Linked DNA regions of Homo sapiens. The protein of the gene in region 4 interacts with the protein of the main gene of each other region in a pairwise test. Each region holds a gene or a part of one and is shown on either strand. Other genes may lie near its edges. The genes, in order: AQP3, TFR2, CLTRN and OLFM4.

The links.
Region 1: the proteins of OLFM4 (region 4) and AQP3 interact in binary tests that used the Homo sapiens proteins (3 or more experiments, as listed by UniProt).
Region 2: the proteins of OLFM4 (region 4) and TFR2 interact in binary tests that used the Homo sapiens proteins (3 or more experiments, as listed by UniProt).
Region 3: the proteins of OLFM4 (region 4) and CLTRN interact in binary tests that used the Homo sapiens proteins (3 or more experiments, as listed by UniProt).

What each region holds. Positions count from the first base shown.
Region 1 is NC_000009.12:33,444,587-33,452,566, forward strand, and holds the start of AQP3 (aquaporin-3), read right to left. Parts: upstream 3,008-7,980; 5' UTR 2,945-3,007; coding exon 2,837-2,944; intron 1-2,836. UniProt on the Homo sapiens protein: Aquaglyceroporins form homotetrameric transmembrane channels, with each monomer independently mediating glycerol and water transport across the plasma membrane along their osmotic gradient. Could also be permeable to urea.
Region 2 is NC_000007.14:100,624,546-100,631,566, forward strand, and holds part of TFR2 (transferrin receptor protein 2), read right to left. Parts: intron 6,681-7,021; exon of another isoform or gene 6,611-6,680; intron 6,508-6,610; coding exon 6,344-6,507; intron 4,828-6,343; coding exon 4,708-4,827; intron 3,762-4,707; coding exon 3,679-3,761; intron 3,592-3,678; coding exon 3,528-3,591; intron 3,430-3,527; coding exon 3,362-3,429; intron 3,276-3,361; coding exon 3,199-3,275; intron 3,117-3,198; coding exon 3,032-3,116; intron 2,947-3,031; coding exon 2,719-2,946; intron 2,359-2,718; coding exon 2,218-2,358; intron 2,206-2,217; exon of another isoform or gene 1,805-2,205; intron 1,686-1,804; exon of another isoform or gene 9-1,685; intron 1-8. UniProt on the Homo sapiens protein: Mediates cellular uptake of transferrin-bound iron in a non-iron dependent manner. May be involved in iron metabolism, hepatocyte function and erythrocyte differentiation.
Region 3 is NC_000023.11:15,661,805-15,669,092, reverse strand, and holds the start of CLTRN (collectrin precursor), read left to right. Parts: upstream 1-4,287; 5' UTR 4,288-4,317; coding exon 4,318-4,375; intron 4,376-4,697; coding exon 4,698-4,756; intron 4,757-7,288. UniProt on the Homo sapiens protein: Plays an important role in amino acid transport by acting as binding partner of amino acid transporters SLC6A18 and SLC6A19, regulating their trafficking on the cell surface and their amino acid transporter activity.
Region 4 is NC_000013.11:53,038,792-53,045,812, reverse strand, and holds part of OLFM4 (olfactomedin-4 precursor), read right to left. Parts: intron 3,904-7,021; coding exon 3,691-3,903; intron 2,709-3,690; coding exon 2,549-2,708; intron 1-2,548. UniProt on the Homo sapiens protein: May promote proliferation of pancreatic cancer cells by favoring the transition from the S to G2/M phase. In myeloid leukemic cell lines, inhibits cell growth and induces cell differentiation and apoptosis.

The DNA.
Region 1 (7,980 bases), on a different chromosome or scaffold from region 4:
GGGACTCCATCTCAAAAAAAAAAAAAAAAGAGTTGAAAAGAAAAGCTCATGTGGTGGTGGTAGTGGTGGCAATGGGCGGCATAAATAAATAGGGAGGAGACCAGAAGTGAGGTTGAATCCACTTCTCCTGAGTCCAGGATGCCAGAGCCCCAGCCTTCACCATGTCCCCCTCAACAACCTCCCCTTCCTTTACCTGTCCCTGTCCCAGCGTCTCCTCTCTCCACCCATGACCTCTCTGCTCTCAGGGGTCCAGATTCCCCACTCAGATTTGGAGGTCCTACAGACAGGGATCTGTGTGGCTCCTCTCACTATCCCCAGCCCGGGACCCAGGGCTGTAGAAATGGGGAGATCGGTTCTAAACTTTCTGCCAAAAATGGGGGAACTAAAAGAGACTAAGAGCCCTGGTGTTCTACAAATATAGAACATACTGGAGCCAGCTGTGGTGGCTCACACCTGTAATCCCAGCACTTTGGAGGCTGAGATGGGAGGATCTTGAACCCAGGAGTTTGAGAACAGCCTGGGCAACATAGTGAGACTTTGTCTCTATTTAAAAAAGAAAAAGAACGTACTATGTCTGTTCCCCTTGTTCAAGCCTGAAAATACTTCTGCAGCAGCTGTAAAGCATTGTTGCCCTGAGCCCCCTGAGTGTCCCTCAAAGCTGCTCCAATGCCTTGCCCTGGTCTCCTCTCCCACCTGCCCATAACTAAAGGTTTTATGCCCACAGAGCAGGCAGTTTCCAGGACCTGTGCTACAGACCTTGTTTATTCTGACGGGTCAGTGCCTGTTGTACTGGATAGTTAAGCATTTTGATTATCATCCCAGAAAGACCAAGAGATAACGGAGAAGCCAGCGGCAATGACATGGGGCAAAGGTGTGCAGGCAGGTGAGAGCAAAGATCAGAGATTGCAGGTGTATGTGTGAGGAGGGGTGGTGGGAGACAGGCACGTGAGGGTCTGAGGCGCCCTGCCCTGCTTGGGAGGCCCTGGCAGCAGCTCCTTGCCTGCCAAAGGCTCAGACCTGGCTCCATCCCAGGACGCCTTGGAGGGAGGAGCTGTCAGAGCCAGTTCCACCACCTTGGGGCTAATCTTCCTCTTCCTCCCCCAACCCCTGCCCTGAGTTCTCGGCCAGCACCGCCCCCTGCCCTCACACCAGGTATCTCAGAGAAAGGGGCTTTCCTCACCCCAAAGCCAACCCTGATTCTGCCACTGCAGGCCTAGGCTCCCAACACGCAGGTAGGCAGGCAGGCACTCACCCACTACAAAGGGATCCCCAGGCCTGCCCCTCCAGTTCATGCAGTCCTTGAAGTTCTGCTTCTCACTGATATCCAATACCTCACATCCATCTGAGTCTGCAACCCTTCCCCTAAAATTTAACACTCTTCTTTTGTGGTCTGGGATAAGCCTGATGATCCTGGGGCTCAGTGGGAGGACTAACGGCTCCTTTGTGAGAGAGTGAACTGAGACTTGGGAGGGAATGAGGAGGCCCCTCTAGGAAAATAGAAGACATCATCCTCCCCTAGCCTGGCTGCTCTAAAACAGGTGGCTGGACTCAGGACTCCGATAGGAGTGAGGGCTCCGAGGCAGGAGAGTGATAAAGGCCACCTCCTATTGCCTTCTTGGCACAGGAGAGAGGGGCTAGGGCTGGCTGATAGGACGACTAATCTTATGGGAGGCTGTGGATAAAATGCCCCCTGTGGCTTCCCCACTTCCTATTCTTGGAAGCCAGAAGTGGGTTTCAGCCCTCCTCTGCCCATAGATCCTGATCCTCAACCATTTGGGGATCCCTACTTGCCCTTAGTTAGGCTTCCTAGTCCACAGTGGGCCAGCTGGTCTGTACTACCCAGGGCTGGGGCAGGAACGGAGTAACCCACTCACTGCAATGTAGCAACTGAACACAGAGGAAAACAGGTGTAACCACATGAGCGGCTGAAAAATCAGAGTAACTGGGACAGGAAATAGAACATAACTGGTGGGTCTGCCAGACCTAAGAAGTGCAAACAGAGTCACTCAGAACAAAACCAGGGTGAAACTGGTGTGACCAAGGAGTAACTAGGACTGAGGAGTAACTCAGGCAGGGAAATGCTCACTCAGAGAACCCACAGAGTAACCAAGAGGCCAGGGAGTAACCAGAATGCTTGTCGTCTTCTGCACAGACGCTGACAGCATCTGTCTGGATAACAGACAGGGCCTGGGAGTCGCTGAGCACCAGGTGAGCAACTTTAGACACGCGTCCTCTGTGCCTGGGCCTAGCTTCCTCCCACCCTTCTACCGTCAGAATCTGCCTCCCTTCCCACTTCGCTGTTCGCAGCCCATGTGGCCTGCACCCTCTGCCCCCACTCGTGCAAACTGTCCTCACTCACTTCAACCTTTGGACTTTTTGAGGCTTAATTATTCATTAGAGGCCAGACACCCAGGACCCAAATAACCTAATAATGGCTCATTTGCCTCCGCCCCCTCCCCTACATCTGGGGGCTGGGATTCTGGGAATCTGGAGGGGTGTGGGAGGCAGGGGAAGTGGCTGGCTGTCCCAGACTGCAAGCGTGACCGCTGCCCCCAGCCTGTTGGCTGAGTCACTTGTGGGAGGGTAAACGATCGGCACTATCACTGGGGAGTAACAGCTGTCATTCTGGCAAGAGTCGGAGCTGTCAGAGAGGGGGTTAGAACCGTGGGGAAGAGGACTTTGGAAGTCAGCTTGATCCTCCGCGGTTAAGCGTGGGGGTCACAGCTGGGGAGGTGGGTCCAGGCTACCTTGGAAAACACAGCCCCTTCGGGGAAGTGAGAGTTTGGGGAGTGCAAGGGCTGGAGAGAGAAGGGCTTCCCCGGCTCCCTCCACTCACCACCAGGATGAGGGTCCCCAGGCACTCGGCCAGCGCCTGTCGGAGCAGCCGGTAGCGGATGTGGAGCATCTCCCCGCAGCGGGACACCAGCTCCTTCTGTCGACCCATGGCGGGGCAGGCGGCGGCGCTGTCGGGCGGGCAGGGGTGGCGGGAGGCGGTGGCGCAGCGAGCAGCGGCCTCCAGCGCTGGTGGCTCCCTTTATAGGAGCGCTGGAGACACGGGCCCCGCCCGCCCTGCAGCCCCGCCCTGCAGTCCCGGAGCGCCGAGGAGTGCGCGCCCCCTCGCCCCCGCCCCACCTCGGCTGGGAGGCTGGTGCGGACGCCGGGTGGAGGGAGCTGCGGGCATGGAGTGTGAGGAGCTTTGAGGGACGGGTGGCCTTCGGAGGGCGCTTAAGGGAGGGGACGTCAAGGGGGCTGAGAGGCTTAGGCAGATCTGAGAGCCAATGGTGGGATTATAGGCAGGGTTCAGGGCCATGGCTGGAGAGGATGCAGCTGTCATAGAGACCACCTGCGCCCTGTGATCACCCCACTTCCTTGCGGGCAGGAGGAGACCTGTCAGAAAGAAACTGGCCGCATCTCTCCAGGATGACTGGACCCAACAGATCCTCAGTTCGAGGCAGGAGGAGGAGGCTGCGAGCCCCAAGTGAGAAGCAACACTGTCTCTTCTGTCAGGACAGATAAGGCACCGACCCTTCAAGGGGACAGCTAGTGTCAGAGGGGCAGCAGTCCAGACTCAGGTGGGCACACAGACACACGTGCTGAGTTCCAACCAGACTTCATGGGCCCTTCTCCCTGTGCTATGAGCACGTCGTGTGTCGCATGTCCTGGCCAGCTATGTCCACAGCTGTGTCTACACATGGCGGATGTCCTGTGTGCCTAATTGTACGGCTGGGCATTCCTCGTGGCTGTGCACATGCCTGTTGAACATGGCTAGGTGACCTAGCTTGTCACACGTGTACCTGCGTGCATTGCTCACATGGCTCCAGAGGCTGAGCTGCAGTTGCCCCGACATGCCACATGCCACATGTTTGCCAGCAGGCTGAGTCCCAGCTGTTTTTAACCCTCTCCTCTCCCATCTGACTTACCCCCAGCCAAGGAAGAGTCTGTCTCTTTTTTTTTTTTAGACGGAGTCTCTCTCTGTCGCCTAGGTGGAGTGCAATGGCGTGATCTCGGCTCCCTGCAACCTCCACCTCCCAGGTTCAAGTGATTCTCCTGCTTCAGCCTCCCGATTAGCTGGGATTACAGGTGCACACCACCATGCCCAGCTAATTTTTGTTTTTTTAGTGGAGATGGGGATTCACCATGTTGACCAGGCTGATTTCGAACTCCTGACCACAAGTTATCCACCCGCCTCAGCCTCCCAAAGTGCTGGGATTACAGGCGTGAGCCACTGAGCCCAGCAAGTCTGCCTCTTTAAGCAAACTTAATTATGGGGGAGTCAGCCCTATCTGAGGGGGATCATGGGACAACCTTGCCCTCTCTCTCTTTTTAAAGAGTAGGGTCTTGCTCCATCACCCAGGCTGTGGTGCAATCACAGCTCACTGTAGCCTCGAACTCCTGGGCCCAAGTGATCCTCCCACCTCAGCCTCCAGAATGGATGGGACTATAGGGACTATGTGCCACCATGACACTCAGCTAATTTTTAAAAATCTGTTGTAAAAATGAGGTCTTGCTATGTTGCCCAGGTTAGTCTCAAACTCCTGGCTTTAAACGATCCTCCCACCTCGGCCTCCCGAAGTGCAACCTTGCCCTCTATGCTGCTTTTAATAACAAGGAAACATCTGGTGGCCTGGGAGCAAACAACATGCCCTTAGGCTGAGCTTCTATGGCAGCATTGCCAGAGGAGATCAAAGAAATCATTTTCCAGAGGGACTTAATCCAGGTGGGCTAATGACCCTGAGGACTTGTCCCTTGAGGGACGAATATGAGAAATAAGGGCCCCCGGCTGGGCGTGGTGGCTCACGCCTATAATCCCAGCACTTTGGGAGGCCGAGGCGGGCAGATCACCTGAGGTCAGGAGTTCAAGACCACACTGACCAACATGGTGAAACCCTGTCTCTACTAAAAATACCAAAAATTAGCCGGGCGTGATGGCGGGTGCCTGTAATCTCAGCTGTTCGGGAGGCTGAGGCAGGAGAATCACTTGAACCCAGGAGGCGGAAGTTGCAGTGACCTGAGATCATGCCATTGCACTCCAGCCTGGGCAACAAGAGCCAAACTCCATCTCAAAAAAAAAAAAAAAAAAAAGGGCTCCCACGGTTCATTGAGAAGCGAGCAGGGCTAGTGCAGAGGTTCTTCTCCCAGAGGGACCAAAAGAGAGAAGGGTTAGTCCTGTCGTCCTTGATCAGAAATGTGATCAGCACCAAGAAAGCCCCAGGGGCCACTGGGACCTACAGTCAAACTATGTTAGGTGACAGGACCATTGACATTTCAGGACAGATAGGCATGGACCCTTCAAGTGGACAGGTTGTGTCAGGAGAGGTAGCAGAAGAAGCTAAACAAGCTCTTAAAAACATGGATGATGACTCACTCCAGCCTCTAGCTCATGGGATCAAACAATCCTCCCACCTCAGCCTCTCAAATAGCTGGGACTACAGGCATGCATCACGATGCCCGGCTAATTTTTGTATTGTTTGTAGAGAAGGGGTTTCGCCATGTTGGCCAGGCTGGTCTGGAACTCCCGAGCTCAAGCAATTTGCCCACCTTGGCCTCCTAGAGTGCTTGGATTGTAGGATTATGAGTATTGCTAAACCCATCTCTTTGGGCATCAACCACCTCTGCCACATGCCTGTAATCCCAGCTACTCGGGAGGCTGAGACAGGAGGATCACTTGAACCCAGGAGGCAGAGGTTGCAGTGAGCCAAGATCACCCCACCTGGGTTCAAGCGATTCTCCTGCTTCAGCTTCCCGAGTAGCTGGGATTACAGGCATGCACCACCATGTCCAGCCAATTTTTTTGTTTTTTGTTTTTTGTTTTTTTTAGTAGAGACGGGGTTTCACCACGTTGGCCAGGCTGGTCTCGAACTCCTGACCTCAGGTGATCCACCCGTCTCGGCCTCCCAAAGTGCTGGGATTACAGGCATGATTCACCGTACCTGGCCTAGATAGGCATGTTAAAAAAGAAAAGAAAAGAAAGGAAATAAGGGCTCCCAGTCCCAGAGGTGGTTCATGCCCAAAGAGATGGGTTTAGCATACACATGAAGTAGATTCACATACATGCAGGTGCTTGCGCATACACACACACAAACACACAGACACACACACACACCCTGTGGTTTGCAGTCACACACTTGCCTATAGACACTGAGCTCTGCTCCCATGATCAGGGATCCCATTCACATGAGAGCCTCGCCATGGGCTCACACATATATAGAACCCCCACATGAGGACTCTAATGACCCTTGACCCAGAAAGATGCACCCTACCCTCCAGGCCTCTATAGGCTGGGAGGCCCCGTGGTGAATCAGGGAGCCATCACTGAGTACCTGCCCTCTGGCCCCACTGCCAGCCTGTGACTCAAGACAGAACCATAGACTCCTGGTGCCAGGGCCCAGATCACAGGCTATGGGAGTGGTAGAGCACCCCTGCCATGCTGCCCCCTTTTCCTCCCACCCTATAATATGCATCCAGCCCATCCCTGCCTCAAGTGGAGCTGCAAAGGCAGCACAGGGCAGAAACTGGCAAGGGACTCCTCAACACCGAAAGAAAATAGGGAAACCCAGCCCACAACACCCCATTGTCACCCTGTCCCATCCTGGGTCTGCTGGCATCCAAATCTAGCCTGGGAACCAGAGCAGGGGAGAAAAACAGGGGAAGCTCTTTCACCAGCAGACACTACACACACTTCTATTTTTTATTTCTTTTCCTCTTCCCTTATAAAAGCAACCTGGAGGCCGGGCATGGTGGCTCGCGCCTACAATCTCAGCTCTTTGGGAGGCTGAGGTGGGCGGATCACAAGGTCAGCAGATCGAGACCATCCTGGCCAATAAGGTGAAACCCCATCTCTACTAAAAATAAAATAAAAAAAAATTAGCTGGGTGTGGTGGTGGGCGCCTGTAGTCCCAGCTACTCGGGAGGCTGAGGCAGGAGAATGGCATGAACCTGGGAGGCAGAGCTTGCAGTGAGCCAAGATGGCGCCACTGCACTCTTGCCTGGGCAACAGAGCGAGACTCCATCACAAAAAAAAAAAAAAAAAAAAAAAAAAGGAACCTGGCCTGGAGCCGGGCACAGTGGCTCATGCCTGTAATCCCAGAATTTTGGGAGGCCAAGCCAGGCAGATCATTTTAGCTCAGGAGTTCAAGACCAGCCTGGCCAACATGGTAAAACCCTGTCTCCACTAAAAACACAAAAATTAGGCCGGGTACGATGGCTTGCTCCTATAATCCCAGCACTTTGGGAGGCCAAGGCAGATGGATCACCTGAGGTCAGGAGTTCGAGACCAGCCTGGCCAACATGGATAAATCCCATCTCTACTAAAAATACAAAAATTAGCCAGGTGTGGTGGTGTGCGCCTGTAGTCCCAGCTACTTGGGAGGCTGAGGCAGGAGAATCGCTTGAACTCGGGAGGCAGAGCTTGCAGTGAGTCGAGATCGTGCCATTGCACTCCAGCCTGGGCAACAAGAGCGAAATTCTATCCCCTCGCCAAAAAAAAATTAGCCGGGCATGGTGGTAGGCACCTGTAATCCCAGCTACTCGGGAGGCTGAGGCCAGAGAATCGCTTGAGCCCAGGAGGCTGAGGTTGCAGTGAGCAGAGATCGCACCACTGCACTCCAGCCTGGGCGACAGAGACAGACTCCGTCTCAAAAAGCAAATAAACAAAAAAGCAACCTGCACACACATCTGTCTGCATTCACCTCACATGGGTTTTCTCGTGGGCTGCACCAGGAAGTAGCTAGTTACACACACAATTATGGATTTGTCTGTCTTATATACGTTGAGCAGCATTTATTTATACATATGCAGCTACCTGTACTCACCCATGTATGCATGCATGTATGTGTCTATCTATAATCCTGGACTGCAGCTCACCATAGAGTATCTTTGCAACCCCCTCCAGTCAATGCAGCTGCATGCCAAGGCACATGGTTTAGCTAGCAGAACAAGGGCTGGGTCTCAATGTCCTTGTTCCCCACCCCCTCCATCAGG
Region 2 (7,021 bases), on a different chromosome or scaffold from region 4:
AATAAGCATGGCTGTTTCAATAAAACTTTATTTACAAAAACAGGGAGCAGAGGCTCACGCCTGTAATCCCAGCACCTTGGGAAGCTGAGGTGGGAGAGTCGCTTGAGCCCAGGATTTTGAGACAAGCCTGGACAATATAGTGAGATCCCATCTCTACAAAAAATTTTAAAAATTAGCGGAGTGTGGTAGTGTGTCCTTGTAGTCCCAGCTACTCAGGAGGCTGAGGTGAGGTGAGAGGATTGCTTGAGCCCGGGAGGTGGAGGTTGCCGTGAGCCCAGATCATGCTACTGCACTCCAGCCTGGGCAACAGAGTGAGACCGTCTCAGAAAAAAAAAAAACAAAAAAACAAGCGGCAGTTTGAATTTGGCCAATGGGCAGTAGTTCACCAACCCCTGGTCTAGAGCCATAAAATTCACTGGGTCTGGCCCAATCCTGTATTGCAGGCTCTGAAGTCCTGAGTCCTTCCCTCTCCATCCCTGAGCCTGAGTCATGCATCTTTTTCTTTTTCTTTTTCTTTTTTTTTTTTTTTTTGAGATGGATTTTCGCTCTTGTTGCCCAGGCTGGAGTGCAATGGCGTGCTCTCGGCTCACTGCAACCTCCATCTCCCAGGCTCAAGTGATTCTCCTGCCTCAGCCTCCTGAGTAGCTGGGATTACAGGCGTGTGCCACCATGCCCAGCTAATTTTGTATTTTTAGTAGAGACGGGGTTTCTCCATGTTGGTCAGGCTGGTCTCGAACTCCTGACCCCAGGTGATCCGCCCACCTCAGCCTCCCAAAGTGCTGAGATTACAGGCGTAAGCCACCGTGCCTGGCCTAAGTCATGCATCTTACACGCAGGTCCCTTTTATCCCTGGTGGGGACAGGGGTATGGCAACTTTGAAAGGTGGGTGTTTTTGTCTTCTGCATGCTGACACAGCTGAGGTTAAACCAAGATCTGTGAATGAGAATGAACCATACCCAACCTATTGCCTCACCCCAGGGTCACCCCTGTTCCAGTAGAGGAGGCAAAGGTTAAAGAAGAATGAATGGAGAAAGAGATATAAGAAGGAGAGGAGAAGGCCAGGTTCAGTAGCTCACGCCTGTAACCCCAGCAATTTGGGAGGCCGAGGCAGGAGGATCACTTGAGGCCAGGAGTTTGAGACCAGCCTGGGCAACATGGTAAAACCCTGTCTCTACAAAAAATAGAAAAATTTAGCCGGGCGTCATGGCACGTGCCTGTACTCCCAGCTACTAGGGAGGCTGAGGTGGGAGGATCACTTGAGCCCAGGAGTTGGAGGTTGCAGTGAGCAGAGATGGTGCCACTGCACTCTAGTCTGGGCAAGGGAGAACGAGCAAGAGCAATAGGTTTGTAAATGGCCAAGGGGGACAGGCAGAGGGCACAAGCAGGAAAATGCAAGGAGGAGAGATAACATGAGCCTCCAAGGGGTAGCCATGCTGGCTCTGAAAACCGTGAGTGTGTGTGCACAAGTGGCTCTGTGTACACTGCAGTTCCCAGCTCACCCCACACTCATTGAGGATGATCCTGTTTACTATTTTGCCCTGCAGACCTTTCCCCATGGCCACAGTCCCTACTCACCCATTTCTTGACATCAAAGGGTTGAGGGGTTGAGTTCTTGGAGTAAGAAAATGGAAGGAAGTGGAGGAGTTGGAACTGGAGGTGGGGTGTGGGCTGCAAAGGATTCAAAGCTAAGCAGAAGGGATTGGTGAGGGAATAAGCTCTTGTTTAACTTTCACGTGACACCTCCTCCAGGCAGCCTTTCTGGATTTCACCCATTTCATTATCAGAAGGAAAACAGCTCTCTTACTCTGAATATCTTTAGCCTTCTGCACTTCCCAGCCTGTAACCTCGTATTGTGGACCAGTGTGGACATGCTTTTTCTTTCCAGAAGGGTCGAGGAGGCAGTGGGAGCTATAGGAGGGGAGTCAGCGGGGAGGGGTGGGGGAGGGTGGATTGTCCCAGTTCTGCCAGGCGTAAACCAGGCGACTGTGGCCAAGAGGCTGGCCCTCCCTGTCCATTTCATCACTTTGATCGCTCGGGTCCTCCAGCCTGACCGATCTATGAGCACTGCGTGTCCAGGACTGGGAAGAGAGCATCCAGAGGACCGGGACTGTGTAGGCGGGGAGAGAGAGGAGCGCGCAGACGGGGCCAGGTCCAGGAGGTGGAGCCCCAGGGGAGGGGCGGGACACTGGGGGCGGGGCGAGGAGGGCGGGGCCTCACCCGCATTATGCGCACGTTGTACATGCGTGTCAGTCGCTCGTCTCTCTCCTCCGAGCTGTAGATCTCCTGCCGCAGCTTTTCCGCCGCCCGGATGTAGTCCCCCCGCGCCGAGTACACCCACTGCAGGGTCAGCCCGCGGGCCTGGGGTGGGGAGGCGCGGGCTGGGGCTGGCGGCAGGGGCCAGGACCCCCGCCTAGCATGGGGACAAGGACCCCCGCCTAGCATGGGGAAGGGGGCTGGGACCCCTGGCCGCAGGAGGGAGGAGGTAGACGAGGACAGAGTGCTGGAGGCAGGATGAAGGGAGTGGGGAGAAGATCCTGCACCTGCCAGGTTGGGCGATGGCACATGCTGGGGGCTGGGAGACTGGAGGCAGGGGGTTAATGGGCTGGATTGCCAGAGAGGACCTAGACCCCAGGGAATGCAGAGAGAAGGGGCTGGACCCCCTGGCCTGGGCAGTGCCTCCCACTCCCAGAGACCAAGAGCGGGGTGGGCCTCTTGAACCTTGAGGTCCCCAGAGAACTCGTTGAGGTTCCCGATGTGCCTGAGGACGACGTCCCCGTAGCGGCCGAAGTCGAGGGGCAGCAGGCGATCGTGGCTGAGCCGGATGAGGAGCTGCCCTGCGAGCTGGGCCACGGCCTGGGCCACGGCGGGCAGGCGGCCTTGCAGCACCTTATGCAGGTTCTCATAAGTGTCCTCCTTTGTGTGCAGGAATGGGTAGGCCTGGTCGTCCTGCCAGGACAGGGTGGACGCTGGGGCGGAGGCAGACAGGCTGAAGGACTAGCGCTGTGTCTGGGGCAGGGGGAGGACGTCTCACCTCCATAAAGGAGAACTCGACGGCAGGGACTCCCACAAAGGCCGTGAAGGAATAGGCACTGCTGTCCATGGGTAGGGGCCGGATCCTGGGGGCAGGTGGGTTGGAGCGATCTGTGGGTTCAGGCTCCCCCACATCCCTCCCCAGCTCTCCCTACCCCCCCAACTTACACCTCAGCATCCCAGCTGGGATTGGTGAACACCACCTGTTCATAGAGAGTCTGCCCACTGTGGTTGGGAGAATCCACCTGGGGGTTGGGGAAGGGCACTGATCAGGCTCTGCTCCTCCCCGCAACCTACTCCCCTTCACCCCCTATTCCTGGGGTGCTCTTGCCTGCTTCAGGACACTCTCAATGAGACTTGTCAGAAGGGGGCTGGTCTTGGCATGAAACTTGTCATCCCCTGGAAAAAGGGGAGGGGAGGGATGCCAGGCTCAGGGCTCAGCCCCAGAGGCAAGGGTGGACCCCAGGGGGCCAGGTGGTGGCACTGCCCCAGCTCACCCAGCACTGCGTTGTCCAGGCTCACGTACACTACGGCTTTGAGGTGCAGCACGCTGAGGTAGCCCTGTGGGTGGGTGACCAGTGTGGAGTGGGAACCCCCCACCCCCACCTCTCCCCAATGCCTAACGACCTGCCCGGGACCCCGTATCACCTCTAGCCACTCCGTGGAGCCCACGCTTCCAAAGTCACCACCGTCCCAGCTGATGAAGAGGAGACTTCTGCGGGGCCGGAAGCCTGGGGACAGAGGGGAAGGAGGACAGGCTTAGCAGGGGCCAAGCAAAGACCCTCCCCTTGTCTTCTTCTGTCCTGGTCCCCCAGGGTCTCTGTTTCTCTGTCTCTCTCTCTGAGACAGGATCTCACTCTCTCGCCCAGGCTGGAGTGCAGTGGTGCAATCATGGCTCAATGTAGCCTTGACCTCTCAGGTTCAAGTCATCCTCTTGCCTCAGCCTCCCAAGTAGCTGGGATTACAGGCATGCACCACTAAGTCCAGCCAATTTTTAAAAAACTTTTGTAGAGATGCAGTCTCCCTATGTTGCCCAGGCTGGTTTTGAATTCCTGGTCTCCAGCGATTCTCCTGTGTTGGCCTCCCAAAGTGCTGGGATTACAGGCATGAGCCATCACGTCCAGCCCAACATGCTTAATCTTGACACAGACCCATGGACTATGATTATCATTCATGTCACTTTTTTTCTTTTCTTTTCTTTCTTTTTTTTAGAAGGAGGCTCATTCTGTTGCCCAGGCTGGAGTGCAGTGGTGCGATCTCGGCTTACTGCAAACTCCGCCTCCCAGGTTCAAGCGATTCTCCTGCCTCAGCCTCCCTAGTAGCTGGGATTACAGGCGCCCTCCACCACGCCTGGCTAATTTTTGTATTTTTAGTAGAGGGTTTCACCATGTTGGCTAGGCTGGTCTCAAACTCCTGACCTCAGGTGATCCATCTGCCTCGGCCTCCCAAAGTGCTGGGACTACAGGCGTGAGCTACCGCACCCGGCCTCACTTTCATTTTTAGGTGACGAAATAGAGGTGAAGTGACTGGCCCAGGGCCACTCAGGTACAATGTGGATGCCGAGGTCCAAGTGACCACTGGCCAGTCTGTGTCCCTCACTGCCTCTCTGCCCTATCCTCCTCGGGCCACAGGCCCACCGCTGCCTAGCCCAGGCCCAGGCCCTGGCCCTGACCTTACCGTTGCTCACCATGGAGGAAAAGGTCCGCACCAGCTCCAGGAGTATAGCCGTCCCCACAGCGGATTTAGCTGCTCCTGGGCCCCATGCATCCCTCTGGGCCCCGATGACAACGTAGTGATCTGGGGAGGGGATGTTTGGGACCCACTTCTGACACTGCACCCTGCACCCTGGGGGCATCCTCCATCTGCCTGTGTCTCTCAGCCCATCACAATTCCGGCAACCCTAGCCCTGCAGTCCCTCCAGTCCCTAAAGAGGGCGCCCCTCCCCACTTGGCCCTTCCTGGATGGTGTGCTCCTTCAGCTGGGTGCCTGAGGTCATTCTGGACTTACAAGGTTTCTGTCACCCAGGCTGGAGTGTGCAGTGGTGTGATCATAGCTCACTGCAGCTTCAAACTCCCTGGCTCAAGCCATCCTCCTGCCTGAGCCTCCCAAGTAGCTGGGACCACAGATGTGTGCCACCATGCTCGGCTAATTTCTTTTACTTACTTACTTATTTATTTATTTAATTTATTTTTTGGAGTCTCGCTCTGTTGCCCAGGCTGGAGTGCAGTGGCACGATCTTGGCTCACGGCAAGCTCCACCTCCCGGGTTCACGCCATTCTCCTGCCTCAGCCTCCTGAGTAGCTGGGAGTACAGGCGCCTGCCACCATGCCCAGCTAATTTTTTTGTATTTTTAGTAGACAGGGTTTCACCATGTTAGCCAGGATGGTCTCGATCTCCTGACCTCATGATCCGCCCACCTCGGCCTTCCAAAGTGCTGGGATTACAGGCGTGAGCCACCGCACCCAGCCAATTTCTCTTATTTTTAAATTTTTTGTGAAGTCTTGGCTTTGTTGCCCCATCTGTCAATTACTTATTTTAATTCTCCACTGCCATCCACATCTAGCTATGCTTGAAAGGGCCATCTATGCTTCTATCTAATCTGATCTGATCTTTCTTTCATGCTTGAGTCTTCCTTCCTTCCTTCCTTCCTTCCTTCCTTTCTCTCTCTCTCTTTCTTTCTTTTTTTCTTTCTCTTTCTCTCTTTCTTTCTTTCTCTTTTTTTTCTTTTTCTTGAGACAAAGTCTTGCTCTGTTGCCCAGGCTGGAGTGCAATGGCACAATCTCGGCTCACAGCAGCCTCCACCTCCTGGGTTCAAGTGATTCTCCTGTCCGAGCCTCCGGAATAGCTGGAATTACAGATGCATGCCACCGGGCCCAGCTAATGTTTGTATTTTTAGTAGAGACGGGGTTTCACCATGTTAGCCAAGCTGGTCTCAAACTCCTGACCTCAAGTGATCCACCTGCCTGGGCCTCCCAAAGTGCTGGGATTACAGGCGTGAGCCACCACACCCGGCCCATGCTTGAGTTTCTATTACAACATCATCCAACTTAGGCTTACTCACTTCCAGTGCTGGGGAGCTCACTACTGGGCAACAACCCCCATTCCATCACTAGACAGGCTGGAAGGTGAGGTCTGTTCACTGCTGCCACCATCAGACCCAGTTCAGCCTCAACTTGCCAGCTTCCCTCCTCTGGGCACCACTCCTGTCCCCTCTTGGGGCCTCCTGCACCAGCCCCCTATCTTGCCAGGGTGTATGGGCAGAAATTCCCCCAGCCCACCACCAGCTGTGAGTGATACTGGACACACAGCATACCTGGCTCTGAGCGGCCTTCGATGCAGCCGAAGATGTTGTTGATGGGGGTGGAGGTCCTGTGATTGTTGACCACTAGCCGCAGTCGTGGCCCGGGGCCCAGGTGATAAGGGGAGCCTAGGAGGCTCCCCTGCCATTCTTGGGGGGCCACAGGGCCTTTGAGCTTCCTGGAGAGGAGGAAGGCAGAAAGGGGGAAGTTGTAGAGAGACCCAGAAGAGTCCAAATCACTCTTTTCCTTATTTCTTTCCCTCCCACCCTTTCTGGCTCCAGATCGCTGCCTCTGGACGCTGCCTGGGTAGGGCAGTGCAGTCAGGGCTGCCTTGGATGGTTCTCAGCTGAGGTAGGTGTGCAATCCAGTGGGAACTTTAGTTGCCAGACAGTAGACCCTGGAGAAAGGCTGTGTCCATCCAGAAGAGTCACTTTTTTTTTTTTTTTTTTTTTTTTTAAAGAGTCAGGGTCCCGGCCAGGCATGGTGGCTCACACCTGTAATCCCAGCATTTTGGGAGGCCGAGATGGGCGGATCACTAGGTCAGGAGTTCGAGACCAGTCTGGCCAACATGGTGAAACCCTCTACTAAAAATACAAAAATTAGCCGGGCGTGGTGGGGGGGCACCTGTAATCCTAGATACTCTGGAGTCTGAGGCAGAAGAATCACTTGAACCCGGGAGGTGGAGGTTGCAG
Region 3 (7,288 bases), on a different chromosome or scaffold from region 4:
ACCAATATAAATAAGATTTATGAATCAAAAAACAGAAAGAATTGCAAATTATGTCCAAGATCTTCTTCTTTGATTAAACAACAAAGATAATATAATCAAAATGAGAAAATTAATACACGTATTAGAAAATATAAAGAGAACATAACAACAAAAGTAGATATTTTATGGGAAATACTCTATAAAGTCCATGAGGATACTAGAAAATCTTAACAGAATATTTTCTTGGAAATTGTAAACAGCCAAAATGGATTCAGAAAGAGGTATAAAACCTGAAATAAATGATAATGTAAGGAATGAAAAATTTTGAAGAACTCTTCCTCTAAAATGCACATGGTCCAGATTCTTCATCTGTGAACTCTTTATTTCTGGTACATTATATGTATTTCTAAACATAGACAATGTTAGAAATCTTTCTGTATCATTTTCAAGATGGTAAAGGCTAGGAAAAAAAACGCTTCAAGAATCAGCACTTGAAAAGGAACCTACCTGATATTCTTTTAAGAAAATAGGTTTAAAAATCATAGGGGAAAAACCAGGAATTGATTCCAGCAGCATACTAAAAATAAATTAAAAAAATGTTTTATCTAAGAATTGAATCAATGTGAAAAATGTATTAATGTAATACACCAAATGGTAAAAATTTTAATAGTGAAAAGCAGTTGATAAAATGCAACACCAATTACTGAGGAAAATAATTTTTTGTAATTACAAATATAATGCTCGTATCACATGACACATCATTTTTAAAGCCACTTGCCAGATTCCGTGCAGTAGTGGCATTCCTATTAGAGTAAAGAAGAAGACAAGGGTGCGTCTTATTCCCATCATTGTATTACTCTGTTCTGATAGTGCCACTGCAGTGAGAAAAAACAACATCCTACAAGAACATATAAAGAGATCCAAGGCTAAGGAAGGCGCATTCTAACTATGAAAATATATTAGCATTGGTCATCCATTCTGGTAGTATTATGGATGTTTTCTACTTTTTTTTGCTTCTCTATATTGTCTATACAGAATTTCTATTGCTTTTTTCAATCATTTTAAAAATGAGAACACAAATATTGAGAAATCATAATGAAATAAGAGATTGTCTTCCCTTTTCAGATGAATGGCTTACACTGACTGAAACTCAATATTTTACTGTCTTCAATTCTAGTTACATAGATGACTAAAAGCTTATGAAGAAATTTGTCACTTTTAAGAAATGCAAGACTAAAGGAACCTGAAGAAGAATTCTGTGTTTCTACTCTGGGAGCTGAGGCAGGAGGGTTGCTTGAGCCCAGGAGGTTGAGGCTGCACTGAGCTAAGATGGTGCCACTGCACTCCAGCCTGGGCATCAGAGCAAGATCCTGTCTCTATTAAAAAAAAACAACAAACAACAACAAAACACAGTTAAGTTCAACAAAGATGACAAAGCTGCATAATAGCATGACCCCAGTTTTGTTTTTAAGAAGAAATGTACATGTATTTACACAAAAAAGAAAGCACAAGGCAGAAAGATATGTTCCAAATATTTAGAAAACATTGACAATTGGTCATTCGTTGACGCTGATGGAATTACAGGTGATTTTTACTTTTCTCCTTGTGCTGCTTTGTATTTTCTAAAAAGAATTTCTATTGCTCTTTTTGAAAAGATGATACAACAAACATTGAGAAACCATCATTCAAAAGAGATTGTCTTCTCAAATGAATGACTTACACTAAGACTCAGTGTTCTATTGTCTTCAACCCGAGTTACATCAATGACTAAGTAAAAGCCAAAGAAAGCCACTTGATACTTTTATGAAGTGTAAGGCTAAAGGAAAGCTGAAGCAGATTTCTTATTTATTTATTTATTTATTTATTTATTTATTTTTGAGATGGAGTCTCGCTCTGTTGCCCCGGCTGGAGTGCAGTGGCACGATCTCGGCTCACTGCAAGCTCCGCCTCCCGGGTTCAAGCAATTCTCCTGCCTCAGCCTCCCGAGTAGCTGGGACTACAGGCACCTGCCACCACGCCCGGCTAATTATTTGTACTTTTAGTAGAGATGGGGTTTCACCATCTTGGCCAGGCTGGTCTTGAACTCCTGACCTCATGATCCACCTGCCTCGGCCTCCGAAAGTGCTGGGATTACAGGTGTGAGGCACTGTGCCCAGCCGCTGAAGCAGATTTCTATGTTCTTAGCATAGCTTTCTTCCTTGATGTAAGTAAAATGCTTTGTTACAATCTCTATGTGTATTGACTTTTCCTTCCCATGATGACTTTATCTAGTTTAACATTTCCCAAGATGACTTCATCTAGTCTGGCTTTATTTTTTTCAGATGTTAGCTAGGTGAGCTCTTCCTTCTGGAAATTTCCACTGCACCTAATACAGTGACATTGCTAGGATGGCTGGACTAAGTTGTGGCTCCCTCTCCTTTTAGTACAGCTTTTCCTGACTCCGTGTCCTTGCAACCAAGGTGAAGGAGATGAGAAAAAGCTTTCTCAGTTGGATTTAGCTGATGGATGTGGGTCCTTTACAATAAAATACCACCCTCGCAAGGAGGGAGAAATGATGTGTTTCTCAAAGTGCTGCAGAAGTCTCATTGTTGATATTTTCCTCGTTGTTGCTTTGAAAATCCAATGTTTCTATTTAACACCAGAGTCACCCAATCTAATTCTGCCATTCATGACTTTTGAGGAATGGGGTGGAATTTGGGGACTGAATTTATGAAGAGGCAGCATGGTAGAGAGGAAAGTCCTGACATCAACCTCTGGGCGGGGCGTTGATTGGCATCTGTGGAATGCCCACCGGGGAAAGATTCTTTTACACGCATTATCTTAATTCTCAGAGCATCTCTGAGGCTTTGTTGCAACTTCAGGGTTTTTTAAAACTTTTATTTTAGGTTTAGGGGTGGATGTGCAGGTTTGTTATATAAGTAAATTGTATGTCACTGGAGTTTGGTGTACAGATTATTTTGTCACCCAGATAATAAGCATAGTATTCGATAGGTAGTTTTTCGATCCTCTCCCTCCTCCCACCCACTATCCTCAAGTAGGTACCTGTGTCTGTTGTTCCCTTCTTTGTGTCCATGTGTACTCAATGTTTAGCTCCCACTTATCAGTGAGACTGTGGTATTTGATCAATTCCAATTTTGACCAATGGTGACCAGAGACACAGAGCAGTTGGGTGTGGTGGAGACAGGGTTCAAGTGTAAGTCAACCTAGCTGGTAAAGTGACACCCATCCCACTCATCCCATTGCTGCCAATGACTTCAACGCTGGAGCCTCAGTTCCCTCCCGTATGAGATGATGATAACAATTGTGAAGTGTCTGAGGATCAGAGAAATAACCCAGTGAAGGTACTTCAGAGTGGGTAACTTTTAATTACTGTTGTATTGCTGTACTGACCAATGTAGTCAGTAGCCACATGTGCCTACTTAAATTAAATTAAACAAAAATTCCATTTCTCAGCTACACTAGCTCCATTTCCAGTGCTCAATGGCCTCCTACCTGTAGTAGCTGCCATATTGGATAGTACAGACACAGAACATTCCCATCGCCACAGAATGTCCCTTGGACAGTGCTGCTCTGTATCATTAACTTTGATTTAATTCAAGTGCCAGACCTCAGGGCTGAACACAATCATTCCCTATGTGTGAATGTGCAGGCACCTGTGCAGTTTTGTTGTATAGGTAAATTGTGTGTCACTGGAGTTTGGTGTACAGATTATTTTGTCACCCAGATAATAAGCATAGTATTCGATAGGTAGTTTTTCGATCCTCTCTCTCCTCCCACCCTCTAACCTTAAGTAGGTAAGAGGAAGCTCCGAAGCTCTCCTGGGATGTTCACCCGCTGTGGTGAGAGTCAGGTGAGGCCCTTCACGGAGGGCACCCTTTGTTTACCAGAGAGAAGGGAGTCACGTTTGTTTCCTGAATGAAGATAGCCTATCTAAGAACCAGGTATCTCAGCCTCGAAAAGGTGGGAAGTGCATGTCAAGGAAACCTCTAGACAGGACTCAATTCTTCCCATCATACACGTAACCAGAGAATCGCAGAAGGGGTCGGGGAGGATTCCAACTTTGAGTCAGCAAAGAAGACATTCTTTTGAGGTAGAGTCAGAGTAGGGAAAACAACTAATCTGTTTTCCAAACAGGTTTTCATAAATAACTGACAGGAGATGGGCTGTTTTTATGGAAGTATTAACCCAAATGATGGGTGTTAATCATTAAACCTTTTTGGTGGTGGCTCGCTTGTTTCTCTGATATTCTAATCCGGGTCACAGAATGGCTAAGGCAGATTTAAGTGCAGCGTGGATTTTTTTTTTCTCACTTTGCCTTGTGTTTTCCACCCTGAAAGAATGTTGTGGCTGCTCTTTTTTCTGGTGACTGCCATTCATGCTGAACTCTGTCAACCAGGTATGTAGCCTTGAAATTTAAAAATAGATGAACAGTTTTCTACATGTTTGACAAGTCATCGACTGAAAGAACTCTTTATTTTTCTAAATCTGCAGACATGTTGTGGCTTGAAAGTTGGGGCAGTGAGTGTTTAATGAGTTTGAAAGAAAATATTAAACCATCTAAGATGATTTAGGTTAAACTTCCAGGAGTATTTGGGGCTGTTTAATTGTAGTTCTTTGTTCCATTAGTTTGAGTTGCATTACATATTAGGATTTTTCAGACTCTGTTTTGGCAGATCCTAATCATCATATACTGCTCTTTCTTTTTTCTTTTCTGGCAGGTGCAGAAAATGCTTTTAAAGTGAGACTTAGTATCAGAACAGCTCTGGGAGATAAAGCAGTAAGTGGAGCACCTGAGTGTTCTTTTTAAATTTTGTTTGCTAATAACACTGTGCTTTCTCTAATAATGGGCCTGTCTGCATAGTTACCTTAATCTTGAATAAATTATTTCTAAAGACCTCAAATCTGATTTCTTAAAGATAGATTATAGAATAATATGAATTTTTAATAAAGTAGGTTTGCCTAAAGTATTTAATCAGTAGTGTATGCTAGGCAACATGTGAAGTTTTGTGCCACACAAAACAACTTAAAAAACCAGCATCTCAACTCGGGATAGTGAAGCCAAGTGGCCTGAGTCAGTCGTTCAGGTCTGGACTGGGTCTACTCCTCACCGTTGTGGTCATTTGAATTTTGTTAGCCTCGATTTTCTACCATTGAAAATAAGGGATAGTTCTACCCACATAAAGTCTTTCATAGCACAAAAAATTTCCAATTTGAACCTGAAGTTTCTTCAATTATTCTCAATTATCAAAGTAACATATGAAATATATGCTTATGAAATAGAAGTTTAAAAAATAGTCATAGGGCCCATGTGGCTATAGGAATGGTAAAGATCATTGAATTAAAAAGACAGTATTGTCTAATTCTAGTTTCAGTTTCCTAGTGTGGTCTGCAAAATTTTTTCCCCAATAGAAGGTGACGTTAAGATGCCTTAGGCATAGAAACAGAAAAAAGAGTGCTAAAGAAACTTAGAGGTATTCTGTTTGCAGGCCAGTTCATCAATTTGGTATTTTATTATTGACTCAATGAGTAATGATTGTTATAACAGCCAGCATTTATTGAGAACTTATCTTACTTTCTAGCTGGGGCTCTTCTAAGCACCTTACTCCTATCAAATCATTTAGCCCTCACAACAATGCTTTGAGGAAGATAGTAGTACAGGTATTAGTATTCCCACTGAATGGATGAGAAAACTGAGGTTCAAAGAAATTAAGTAACATGCTCAATATTTCAAGTCAGCAAGTGGCAGAAGTAAGATTTGAGCCCAGGCAGTCTGAGTGCAGAATACACTGTCTCTACTAGTGTGCAGGGTTGGCCATCCCAGTATCCTCTAATAGCAGGTACGATGCTGAATGCTGGGATGTAATGGTGATTAAGGCTTGTCCTTACCCTTGTGGAGCTTATAGTAGTAGTAGAATTGGTCATCTATTAAATATTCAGTAAACCAAATGCAAATGTGCAATCTTGACAAGTATTACGGGAAGAAGTACAAGGGCACTTCGGCTTTGTCAAGGCCCACAATACCTGGCACTTACTGTGATGTCTGAAGCATGAGTTGAAGTGTTACAGGAAATGAAAGAAGGAAAGGCAGAGGGAACAGCATGTGCAAAGGCTTATCACAGGAAGGATCTTGGTGAGAGTAAAGATTAGAAAGAGGGCAGAAATATCTGGAATTGGGGCAGTGAGGAGGAACATGGCAGGTGATGAGCTTAAAGAGAGAGGAGCAGGCAGGCCAAGGAATATGTGGGCTGTGTTAGGGAGTTTCATTTTGAGATGTAGGGAGGGTTCAAGAGCATCAAATGCCGTTGAGAGGCCAAGCCAGAAGGCGACTGAAAAATGTTCATTGTGTTGGACAATATGGAGGTCAATGGTGATTTTAGAAAGAGCTCTTTTCGTGGGGTGGAGGAGCTGGAAGACAGATAGTGGGGAGTTAAAAAATAAATGAGTGGTGAACATGTTGAAACAGATGTGTGGACAACTCCTGGGAGAATTTTGGCTGTGAAGGGCAGGAAAGAGATAGCAGTAGGTAGAAGAAAGGAAGACTGAGTAAAATGATTTGTTTTTGCTGTTGCAAAACAACAGCTCTTTGCTATGGCTTTAATGAGAAAGTCTTGAGCTTGGTTAAAAGACAATGAACAGACTCCGGTCAGAGCTAAATACACAGAATGGAGGGGAACTGATATTGTTTAGATCTGAGAAGGGCAGAGGAGAAGCATTCCTAATATAAGTGACGGAAATGGCCTCTGATAGGCATAGTTCTGTCTGGCACTTCAGGAGAGGAGGCGGCTAAGACGTGTCTATGGAGGAAGTGTTGTATCTTGATGTCAGGAGGTTGGGAGAGTTGAAATTGATGAGATGTATCTATAAATTATGAAGCAAAACCATTTAGTGAGAGTGAGGTTTGAGGGAAACCATTGGGAAAAATGGTTAAAAAAAAAAAGCATTGACCATCAGTTCTCTCTCTAGAGAGAGGTTTGAAATAGTTATGTGACCCATGAGAAAGAGAACTGATGGTGAAACCTTAGGGATTCCCAGGCAATTTGGGGGTAGGTCATCATGAATTTAGAGTTAAACCAACTAACCCTGTTCTGTAATTGTCTCTAGTTATACCAGTTACTTACCTAAAATGTGGGGTTAGCCATGGTTTGAGTGTTCTTAGATGTGTGCAAAAAGCAAGGTGAGCTGGGGCATTTAAGGTCCTGGCACATGTTATTGAAATGAGGAACCAAGGAATCTAAACTGATAGATAAATATATGCAATTAATTTGTACCATTTGGTCTGTGAAGCCACACGTGGCATATAAAGATGTGT
Region 4 (7,021 bases):
AATGAGGCAGAAAAAGGACGTTGTTTGTAGCAAAAACCAAATAGGAAGCATATTTTATTGAACCTGGGATACATTCACTTGTTCTAAGTTCAAGCTGACCACTGGGTCAGCAAACTGTAGCTATAAGGGAGGGGGCCCAGAGAGCGCAGAGTTACTTTAGAGCTGAGACTTGCATATAGTCTTTTTTATTCTGTGCAACTCTGCAGTGAAAAAAGCAGACAGGCCAGATTTTAAAGTCCCATAATAGAGAATAACTTTAATTAAAGTCTCCACAGGCTCACAAGTTTGTGGTGCTTGGGGATTTTCCAATTCTGCATTATCAACCAATCCAAACAGAAAGAGAGCAAGTGAAAGAAATTGATTTAAAAACATGACCAAAAGTCAGTTTAATATAAACATCATAAATATAATATGAACAAAGCTGGAAGAGAGCCAAGTGGCTTGGCAGGGATTCAGGTACAGCCAAGGTTGTGGGAAAGTGAGTAAAAATCTGGGTCCAATTTGCTTAAACAACACAGCTGGGCTAGGATGGATCACAGAAGTCTAAGTGTGAGGGCCTAGGGGAAAGTTCTGGGAAAAAAAAAATCCAACAAAAACAACCCAACAGGCTCACTTGTTTTCTTCCCTGGATACTAAGCAATGCATTTTCTCCCCACCGTTGTCCTTGGATTACTGCTGCCTGACACCTTCGGTCCTGAACTGACCAGGGAGCAAAGACCCTTGCCTTGCAGCTTCTGCTCTGTCATTAACTACTTGTGTGGCCTCAGGAAAAGCAGCGTTCTTACCATCCACGTCTTCTCCTCTGAGACAAGACGAGGCTAAGTTAGATGGCCCTGAATATTCCTTCATCTAAAATGTCCTCATTCTAAGGGATGCATAGAAAATTGTGCCAGAAAAATCTATTCCATGAGGAGGATTTGCAAGGGGTGTTGGGGAGCTCGTTCAGGGATTATCAGGAGTTGTCATTGCTTCAGCCTCTGCCTCAGTGAGTCCTCTGTGGTCCACCAGAAACAGCTCTCATTTGCTACATTTTTGCACCACTAATCCCAGACTAAATTTAGCCTTAGTTTATTACAGAGGACAGACCATGTTGTCTGCCCTAAACCTCCTATGCAGGATGCGAAATTTGAACAGTTGTTCAAATTTATGTCACCTCCTTTCTGGAGAAGTTGAAAGGCCATTTCATTCTGGGGCAGGATTCTAACCATTAGATGACACCTGTCATAGTAGGACACACTCCTATTTGCAGAGGGAGGAAAAAAATCCACCTGAAGAAGACCAAGAGGCTTATATCTATGGCTATACCTATTTAATAATTGAAGCCTTAAAAAATCAGTTACAATGACAATAATCCAGAAACACAGTCTAAAAGAAAGCAGGTGTGAGGATTGGAATTCATAAAAATAAAAGGATTGCATGATTTGATGAAAAGATACAGTCCCCACTCAGGCTAAGATGCTCAGGACCTGCAGAGAGAAGGTCCCTGTGTCATTGATATCTCTAAAGGATGGGGCTGAACACTGTGGCTGAGAGGCTTTAGTTTACCTGAAGGAATGCATTGCAGGGCACAGTAATCTGGCACTGCTTTTGTTTTGCTGCAAGGCTTTCGCTTCAATTATCAACATTATTAACAATATCCATTGCCAGCGTGTGAGTGCCGATCATAAGGTTCCGAGCTTCCCAAGCACTGACTCATTAATCCCCACAGCCACCCTGCAAGGCAGGCACTATTATTCTCCCATTTTACAAATGAGGATATTAAGGATCCTTTTTGCTGCAGCCACCTAGCTGAGAAGCTCAGGTCTTTGGAATTCTAAAGCTATGTTCTTGTACCCTACACTCCACTGCCTCTGTTCATGGGTATATTTGCAGAACACCCACCTCTGTGCTGTACTTAACCCCAATGAGAATTCATTAAAGACGAACATGCCACCCCTACTCCAAGAACTCACAATCCATGAGGAATGGCAAGACACACCCACAAGCACATGATATGTGGGGTCATTCCTTTAATCCTCACTGAATCTCAGGACACACAATATAGCAGGTGCTCAGCATGCATTTATAGGAAGAAAAAAGAAAAAATTAAAGAGAAACAGAAGGAGAGAGAGAAGATGGCAGCATCAAAGGCATAAACCCAGCTCATCAGATAAGTGAGCCAATCAGTCCTTAACTCCACAGGAAAGTGGATGCCACACACAGATTCCAGAGGCTTTCCCCTGAGGCCCCTGATAGGGCCTCCATCACCATAGAGATTTTTGTTCCCTGTTAGAAAATGCAAAGAGAATACGTGTAACTCGTGGATTTTGCTTTAAATCAACTCATTGTTTGTGCTCTTCCTCTTTGAAACCCAGAATATGATAGCATGTAGAATACTTGGGAGGAAGGGAATTTTAAAACATGGAAGAGAAAACTGAGAACTGAAAAAAAAAAAAAAAAAACAACCCACCTTCTTCTTTCACCATTGCAATCCCCAATCCCTTCCCCACCCCACTCACAGCTCCTTATGGGGTCTGGCACAAGTGGTTAAAAAAACTGGCATGCTTACCTGGAGTGGGAGGAGGGTGGACGACAGGGGTGTTTTGATCTTTAGAGGCCTCACACTCTTTCAGCTTGGTCTTCAGAGCCACGATTTCTCGGCGAATGGCAAGGACATTGTTTTTGTCTAGTGTCTCAAGCTTCTCTACCAAGAGAGTCATATTTCTTATCTAAGGAAATAAAAATTCAGAGTGACTTTATATTATGGTGCAATTTCTTTCATAAACATTCCAGGGCTGAATTTGTCATTTAGTGAAACATTGCCAGAGAATACACCAGAGATTCTTCTGAATGGTTTCATTTGGAAGAATACATTTTATGGTTTAGCATGAATGCCTGTCAGATCTCAGGCAGATGTGTGTGACAAGAAGAAAATGGCAAAGATTTTAATAGCTTTAATAATAGAGCCCAAGCTCATCCTCAGCATCCACAAATGTCCATTAAAGTTCATTTCTAATAACCTTCCCCTATAAACTTGTGTTTACTCATGTTGTATTATAATTAAGATTCTAATGAATGGTGAGGGCCAGAGAAAGCTTAAATTCTAAAATACGTAACTAGAATTCTCAATTATAGCCCATGTCATGACTGTGCTAGTAAATTTTTGTTGATATAAATTACCCAACCATAACGTTAATGTGATGGTCTTTATCCACAGATCTTAAAAGGCTTTACAGAAATATACAAGAAATTTCTTAAAGGGGGTTTCCAGTTTGCAGAGAAGGATTCCAGGTTATTCAAAAGGAGAAACAAACCTAGCAATTTTACCACAATCAGGTATATTGTGGATTTCTAGTTCCATGAGGATAAATCTAGAGCAGAGAAGACACCTCATATAGCTTGGCCATGAACCGTTGTTCAACTTTATGCCAGCTCCTTTTCAGAGAAGTTGAAAGGGCATTTTATTCTGGGGCAGGATTCTGACCATTAGACAACATCTGCTCCTAAGTCAGCACATTCCCAATGTGCTTAACTTACTATTCAAACACATGCCCTTATCCAAAACAGAACATAGTGATATGCCATGTGGCCATGAGACAGTAGAGAATTAGAAGTTGGAAGAGATAGTTTCACTTCCTGGTACTAGTACTTGCTTACAGTCACTGAAGGGAGTTTATTATTAATTTACCAAGAAGTGAGTTCACTCCTTACCTCCACCTCCAGCTGGTCAACAATTTCTGAGCTTCCACCAAAACTCTCCTTCAGCTGTATGACCAGTTTTTCCATCTCCTTCACTTCTACCTTGATCAGCTCGAAGTCCAGTTCAGTGTAAGAAATGGTATCCTTCTCCATGATGTCAATTCGGACAGTTAGGTTTAACAGTTTCTTTTCATACACACTAATTAATTGGACATATTCCCTCACCTGAAAGAAAATCAAAAGGTTCAAGCCAATTCCCTGAGTAGTATCACACCATCTTCTTCCACTACCGAGCCCTTGAGTTGAGAACTATTTGATTCTTGCCAATCATTGTGTTTTGTAAATAAATAGATCAAAAATACATTTAACTAGATTTTTAAAATCTATCCATATACAAAGAACTTATTACTCCAATTGAAGGGAGGTAGATTTTATACTTTGCTAGGCTAAACATAATTTTGCTTCAGCATCATCATTTGCAGGTATATTTTAATCTCCATTTTTTAAAAAGGTTTTAGGCTCAGGGGTATATACCCAGGTTTGTTATATAGGTAAACTCATGTCATGGGGGTTTGTTGTAAAGGTTATTTTGTCTCGCAGGTACTAAACCTAGCACCCAATAGATTTTTTTGTTGTTGTTCCTCTCCCTCCTTTCACCCTCCACCCTCAAGTACGCTTCTGTTGTTCTCCTCTTTGTGTCCATGTGTTCTCATCATTTAGCTCTCATTTATATGTGAGAACATGTGGTATTTGGTTTTCTGTTCTTGTGTTAATTTGCTTCGGAGAATGGCTTCCAGCTCTCTATCCATGTTCCTACAAAGAACATGATCTCATTCTTTCTTATGGTTGCAAAGTATTCCATGGTGTATATGGCCCATATTTTCTTTATCCAGTGTACCATTGATGAGCATTTAGGTTGATTTCATGTCTTTGCTATTGTGAATAGTACTGCAATGTACACACACGCCCATGTATCTTTATGGTAGAACAATTTATATTCCTTTGGGCATATACCCAGTAAAGGGATTGCTAGGTTGAATAATAGTTCTTTTTAGTTCTTCGAGTCACCACACTGCTTTCCACAATGGCTGAACTAATTTACACTCCCACCAACAGTGTATAAATGTTCCCTTTCCTCTGCCATCTCACCAGCATCTGTTATTTTTTTACTTTTTAATGATAGCCATTCTGGACTGGTATGAGATGGTATCTTACTATGGCTTTGATTTGCATTTCTCTAATGATCAAGTGATATTGAGCCCTTTTTTCTTAATCTCCATTTTAATGTTTGAAGACATTAACTCCCCAAACTAAACTGGTTTGTATCATAGTCTCTTGCCATCTCTCCTCCCTTCAACACACTTACTCTAATTGTTTCTCAACCTCAGCACTGTTAGCATTTGGGACTGGATTGTCATTTCTTGTGGGGGTTGTGCTGTGAATTACACAATATTAAGCAGCATCCCTGGCTTCTTCATGCCAGTTGCATCCAACCACTCTCCAGTTATGATAACCAAAAATGTCTCTGGGCATTGCTAAATGTTCCCTGGGGACAAAATCGTTGCCACGGCCAACACCACCCTCCTTCCATTTAGAAACATGGCTCTACATCTAAGTATTTTCTGGAGAAGGGAGAAATGCGCTATGCCGAATTCCTTCTTTGATCGCCATATACAATTAGTTTTGATCCCCTCTGCCTTTTACAAAGTGGCATAGAGATCCAACCTACTACACAATATGTGAGTGTGTGTGCCCTGTAGAGTACACATTTCATTAAGTGCACCCACATTTATTCCAAGAACTGATTATTGCAATCAGACCTTTAAATTACAGATTTGTTGCATATATTTGAATGTCTGATCATTAAGTTAAAATACTTCCAAAAATTCCCTTGGCAGTTTAGTGTATAATTGGAATATCCAAGTGGATATTTTAATAAACACAGTTGGTGGTTCTTTCTGTGTCTGATCTCTAAAGAAAATGCCATGGCTTTTTTAAGGACCTGCTCATTAAATAAGTTGCTGGCTTTATATGCTTTTTAAAAATTTGAACTGAAGTGATACTTTTCCCAAAACTACACTAATATCAAGTAGCTGATCCACAGTGCCTGGATGAATTTAGAGCCAGATGTTGGCCTTTAATCCTTCTTATACCAAAAGCAATCCTAACTTCTGTCATTTCAGCCCTTCCACTTAACCCCATTGTGCAAATTAAAGTAGACTCATAGACCACAGACCTGAAGGGCTAGGGCTTCAGGCAAAAAGGATTTTAATGAAAGTCGAAAAAACAGTCCTTGGCACTGCTAGTGTATCTCCTCGGGCAACTGATGCTCACTGCCATTGGATGTACCATAACTCGGAGGATGACAAAGCTGGTGATATTTTGGTGGATAGGGAGGTTAAAACATATATACGGCCACCTCTTAGTATCCATGGTGGATTGGTTTCAGAACCTCCCAAGAATAACAAAATTCAAGGATGCTTAAGACTCTGACAGAAAATGGTACAGTATTTGCCTACAATCTACACACATCCTCCCAAATACTTTAAATCAAGTCTAGATTACTTATAATACCTAAAACAATGTAAATGCTATATAAATCATTGTTGTATTGTTTTTTATTTGTATAGTTCCTGTTGTTACATGGTTATTTTTATTAGTTTTTTTCCGTGAAATTTTTCAATCTGAGTTTGGTTATATCTGCAGATGCGGAACCAAGGCTATGGAGGGCTCACTATATATAAAACCTAACAAGTCCCCCTGAGAAGTGCACTGCAGATATAGGGCTGCCAGGTTCCAGTGTCTACAAAACTCAGGCATAAAACCTTGACTATGATAAAAATAAATAAAGTGCCAATCCATTACAGAAATGGAAGTTTGAGAAATAAATATGCTTGTTGGCATTTGGCCTTGCCAGCTCTTGGAACAAATGAAACACCCTCAGCTTCTCTGGAACATTTTGGTGGCACATCGCAGCTGTTGTTCTACAAAAATGAGTGATTCAACTGTCATCTCTGCTAAATAAAATGTGGTTCTCCTAGATTTTCACAAAAAAAAGCAAGGCATATTCTGGAGTTTGTTACCTATAAAAATGTGTGGTGTGCCTGCCCTGGTGCAGACAAAATGAAGGGTCTGTAAAGATCCATTTGAGGAAAAAACTCAAGGTTCTTCAGCTGACACTTAAAGGATGCTCAGTGGTGTTCAGGAAAATGGCAATCATCCATGGAGTTAGAGAAGACACAAAAGAGCTTGGGGATGGGCCAGAAAGACTTCAGAGTGTGAACTTTACTAATTTAAGTAAATCATTCATATGAACTTTTCACATATATGAATCTGTAGCTTT